Linked DNA regions of Homo sapiens: region 1 is linked to region 2. The links come from fine-mapping of genetic effects on gene expression. Tissue or cell type: whole blood. Region 2 holds a variant in brackets; the other region holds the start of a gene. All regions are shown on one strand. Distances are between the middles of the regions.

What was found. PIP is the estimated chance that this variant, and not a neighbour inherited with it, causes the effect.
Region 1: SLC3A1 starts here. The variant in region 2 is fine-mapped to the expression of SLC3A1 in whole blood (TOPMed, PIP 0.95).

The regions. Positions count from the first base shown.
Region 1 is chr2:44,274,316-44,277,082 of GRCh38, forward strand. SLC3A1 (solute carrier family 3 member 1) reads left to right here and starts at 1,165. Exons shown (of 10, transcript NM_000341.4): 1 at 1,165-1,650. The coding sequence starts at 1,221.
Region 2 is chr2:44,243,076-44,245,842 of GRCh38, forward strand. It overlaps a transcript of PPM1B not described here. Among named protein-coding and RNA genes, the nearest start is that of SLC3A1, 31 kb to the right of the region's middle. The variant T/G (reference allele first, on the strand shown) is at 1,195.

The DNA of each region.
Region 1 (2,767 bases), 31 kb after region 2:
AGGCATGCGCCACCACACCTGGCTAATTTTGTATTTTTAGTAGAGACGGGGTTTCTCCATGTTGGTCAGGCTGGTCTTGAACTCCCAACCTCAGGTGATTCACTGGCCTCGGCCTCCTAAAGTATTGAGATTACAGGCGTGAGCCACCGCGCCTGGCCTAATTTTTGTATTTTTAATAGAGATGGGTTTTGCCATGTTGGCCAGGCTGGTCTCCAATTCCTGACCTCAAGTGATCCACCCGCCTTGTCCTCCCAAAGTGTTGGGATTACAGGCGTGATCCACCATGCCCAGCCTTCATTCCTTTTCAAAGCTGAATAATATTTCACTATATGTATAACCACATTGTTTATCTATCCATCTGATGATAGCTACCTGGGTTGTTTCCAATTTTTAATTTTTTAATTTATTTTTAGTTTCATTTTATTTTTATTTTCTTTCTTATTTATTTATTTTATTTTTTGAGACAGAGTCTCCCTCTGTCACCCAGGGTGGAGTGCCATGGCTCGATGTCAGCTCACTGCAACCTCTGCCTCCTGGGTTCAAGTGATTCTCCTGCCTCAGCCTCCTGAGTAGCTGGGATTACAGGCATGCACCACCACGCCCGGCTAATTTTTGTATTTTTAGTAGAGACGGGGTTTCACCATGTTGGCCAGGCTGGTCTTAAACTCTTGACCTCGGGTGACCTGCCTGCCTCAGCCTCCCAAACTGCTGGGATTACAGGTGTGAGCCAAGATGCCCAGTGGAGATTTTTTTTTTTTTTGTGGGATGGATTCTCGCTCTTGTCGCCCAGGCTGGAGTGCAGTGGTACGATCTCGGCTCACTGCAACGTCTGTCTTCCGGGGTCAAACGATTCTCCTGCCTCAGCCTCCCGAGCAGCTGGGATTACAGGTGCACACCACCACGCCTGGCTAATTTTTATACCTTTAGTAGAGACGGGGTTTGGCCATGTTGGCCAGGCTAGTCTCAAACTCCTGCCCTTGGTGATCTGCCCGCCTCGGCCTCCCAAAGTGCTGGGATTACAGGCATGAACCACCGCGCCAGTCCCGAGATTTTTTTTTTAAACCTCTGTACTTTTACCCTTTCTTCCTTGGCTGGACTTTGTCCAGCTAGGTTTATTTATAAACCACACAAAGTTCATTAACAAGACCAAGCATTCAGCAAGCCACTCTTCCACCTCCCTTACTGCAGGAAGGCACTCCGAAGACATAAGTCGGTGAGACATGGCTGAAGATAAAAGCAAGAGAGACTCCATCGAGATGAGTATGAAGGGATGCCAGACAAACAACGGGTTTGTCCATAATGAAGACATTCTGGAGCAGACCCCGGATCCAGGAAGCTCAACAGACAACCTGAAGCACAGCACCAGGGGCATCCTTGGCTCCCAGGAGCCCGACTTCAAGGGCGTCCAGCCCTATGCGGGGATGCCCAAGGAGGTGCTGTTCCAGTTCTCTGGCCAGGCCCGCTACCGCATACCTCGGGAGATCCTCTTCTGGCTCACAGTGGCTTCTGTGCTGGTGCTCATCGCGGCCACCATAGCCATCATTGCCCTCTCTCCAAAGTGCCTAGACTGGTGGCAGGAGGGGCCCATGTACCAGATCTACCCAAGGTCTTTCAAGGACAGTAACAAGGATGGGAACGGAGATCTGAAAGGTACATGCCCAGAGATCATTTAGGGTGGGTGCCAGGATGAGATTGGTTTATGGTTCTTTTGTTCTTCAGAACCAAATTATGCCTGGGTTGTTCAGTAAGCACATTCCATTATGACTGGTCATGCCAAGTTGCTCCTTGTTTATGATATTCTTAGAAAATCACTCAGCAGAACCCAGCAGTTATTTTACTAGCTGAAGGGCTATTTGCTGAAGGCCTTTGAGCCAAACGAGTTGTTTAATTTATTGCCCACTAAGTACATACAGTTGTTCAGTCATCAATTCTAACTTCTTAGAGCAGCCTTCCTTCTAAAATCTATGTCCTGTTTCTGGGGACTTTATAGTTGAATATGTCAGGGTGGCAGTTGGGAATTGCTTTCCCAGTATACGAAGCAGCTAGTTTGGCTGTGTGGCTGGGAGTGTATTAGTGAATAAAGCATAAATAATATTTTTTTAAAAATCAAGTGATATCTGTAAAAAGTATAGGCTGAGTCTTAAAGTTTAAATTCTAAAAAAGGAAGGGAAGTAGAAAAGGGGTAGCAGTATGCATTCGTCATTACTTGAATTAAGGATTGTTTAAAACCATGTCCGTATTAGTATAAAACAAGTAAAGAATTAACCAGGGGTAGTGGCGCATGACTGTAGTTGCAGCTACTTGGGAGGCTGAGGTGGGAGGATCGCTTGAGCCCAGGAGCTCTCAGCCAGCCAGCTTAGGCAACATAGGGAGACCCCGTCTCCAAAAAGAAAAAAAAAAAAGTGAAAAATTATTTTTTAAAAGCTAAGTTAATTTCTTGGTGGGTTATGTGTAAAACATCCTTACAATATATTGCTCAAACCAGAACATACTTCAGAGTAAAATTATGCCAGATGGCAGGCATACACTGGGAACTTCTGAGCAAATTGGTTGGTATGGTCACTCTACTTCAAGGCAACAATAGGAAACAAATAAGGAAACTAACAAACTAATGTTTTACAATGATAATTGGTTTGAAGAAAACAAAACAGGATGATATGAATGTGGAAAGTAGGAATGGGCTTAATGTATCTTTAAAATGCTACAAATGAATTCTTGAAACCTGCAGCTTTCTTTAATCACTAGTAGAAGGCTTTTCTTTTTCACG
Region 2 (2,767 bases):
TCATGCAACTTCTGAGCTTTTTCTTACACAATAACTTTTTGTTTCGATGCCAGCTTTTCCTACAGGCAGAATAAGGGCTTTCTACTCACTATGATTGGAGCGGTACTAGAGAGAGGGCTAAGATGCTCAGAGCTGAAGAGTATAAGAGAGCTCTCCTTGGTCAAAAATATTCCCTTTTACCCTTCATATACACTTTTAAATCAAATAGGATTTATTTTGTTTTATTTTACTTTAAAAGAATTGAAAATTTACATACAGTAAACTACAAAGAGCTTTTGTGTTAAATTTGATATGTTTCAACAAGTGTCATACTTTTACATTCAAAATTTTCAGAATTTTCTTTAACAGTTTCATCAACCTTCAGTTGCATACAAAGACAATTTTTTATATCCTAAGTAAATATTTACATATATTTTAAGACATTGGCCTTTTGAATATTTGTACTTTAATACAACTGGAACTTATTTCTGAGGTAAAAATCTAATATAACATTTTCCTATAGATTTTTCCATTATCCCTTTATACCAGCTGTTACATAAGCCAATCTTTTCTCATTATTTGAAGTTGTCCTTTATGACATATTCATGTATATGCTTGTATTTTTATAAGCATTCTATTTTATCGTTTTGTGTTGTGTGTCAGTACCATGTCATCTTAATTATCATAGTTTTACTATACATTTTATTATCTGATAGGGAAAATGCCCCTTATTATTCTACATTTACAAAAATTGAATGTGTTTATTTTTCCAGATGAATTTTTCAATAACTTGGCCAAGATATCCCTGCCAAATAAAAATCTCATTAATGTGTTGATTGAATTGTTGTATGTGTAGATTAATGTAGGGGTCATTGGTATCTTTAGCCAAGGTGAGTTCCACCAGGAAGATGCTACATCTTTCTATTTATACAAGTGTTTTTAATGTCCCCAGTACAGTTTTGTAATTTTCTCCATATGATCTACACCGTTCTTAAATTAATTCCTTGTTATTTTATATTTCTTATTGCTGTGATGAGTGAACCCCCCTCCTCAGTATATTTTAAATGTATACCTTCTTAGACAACTAGTTTTATTTACTTACCAACCCCAATCCTGCAAGAAAAAAAAAAACCATATATATATATATATTTCAATTTCTATCATATCCACCAGATGGCAGTCTTGGGCACGTCCATCTGTAAACCTGCTGAGAGC[T/G]CTGGTGACAAGAAAGGCAGTGGCTGGCAGACCTTCCAAGCACTCAGAAGCACGCGGACAAAAAGGTTTTTTTGTAAACCCGAACGAAAAATAAACCCAGCATTATATAATTATAGTATTTGTACTGCTGTTAACCTTTAATCTTATAACCCATTAGTGGAGACAGAGAAGGACTGTCACTGTGCCCTTCAAAATCATATTTTTTCCTGTCCATGTGATAAACACCTGTGGCTTCTTGGCAGCACTTTTGGTTTGATTCCAGGGACTCTTATGGTTAAAGGCAGGCTTTAATCTGGCGTTGTTTTCCTTCTCCTAAAAGCACCATTTAAATCGGAAGTTACTGGATTTCTAAACGGTTAAGACCGTCTTCCGACTGGTTTTTATCATTCCCAGATCTCTTCTGAAAGGAGGTGGTGTGCATAGTTAATATGAAAGGAACTGGCTTGTTCTACGCGAATACAAATCTGAATAACTCTTATATATTAGACCTTTTTTTTTTTTTACTTTAGTGACTTCCAGTATCTATATTTAGAAGTGTATAATTACTTGAGATATATATATATATATATACACACACACACACATATATAGTGTGTGTGTGTGTATCTATGTGTATATATATACATATACACATGTATTTTTAGGGCTTTTGGCTTTTTTAGGGCGGGACACGTGAATCTGGCAGTTGAGACAGAATTTTTCCTATAGCGGTGTAACAGTGTACAATACTAAACTAATGAAATGTCTTTCACTATCAACAATTTACGTATCCATGCTGATTGCTTTAACACTAGAAAAAATATGCCAAAATAAACTACATTTTCTAGGCGCTTTCACACCAAAAACACACACACACAGCTGCTTGCCCATTTGAGAACAGCCAATAAAGCAAACTCTTTGAATGATTTGTGGTTTTGTGTCCCCAGAAGTTTTAACAGTAGTTCTGAAGATTTGTCATTTGTGTGTGCTTCAAAGATAGAGTAATACATTTTATAGCTGGGCAGATCTCTAACTATATAGTTATAAAATCTCAAAGCTGAGAAAACCCTGAATGCCAGATGATCTTTCAGCAGCCTCTAGTGTGAGTGTCAGGAATGAGTTCATTTCCATCTTTGATCAGCTCTGCCTGTCGTGTTGCATCTCTGCTTCTTCTCCTCAGTTGTCTTATTAACCCTCGGGGCTATGAAAATAAGTATTTAAAAGCTCCTGGAACCCACAAAAAACACTAAGCCTTGAGAGAGATGTAGTTGATCTGAGTCACATATGCTAACAACTTTTTATTTCCCTGATTATTCTTCCTGTTCTGTACAATGACTAGAGAGAATAAAACTACATCAGGTACAAAAACCACCTGCCTTCTTAATTAATGACCTTTGTTATAGATTAACTTCTCCTTTGTTGTCCTGCTTCACTTAGATCAGATGACAGAAAACCCATGACTACACCCTCTGTAAAAGGTGTTCAGTGTACCTTTCCCAAGAGAAACACTGCCTGTAACCAAATTGCTGTAACTATGTGCCAACCTTGTATGAAAAATGTTGCAATCCTGCCAAAAACTCCTGTCTCTGCCTAT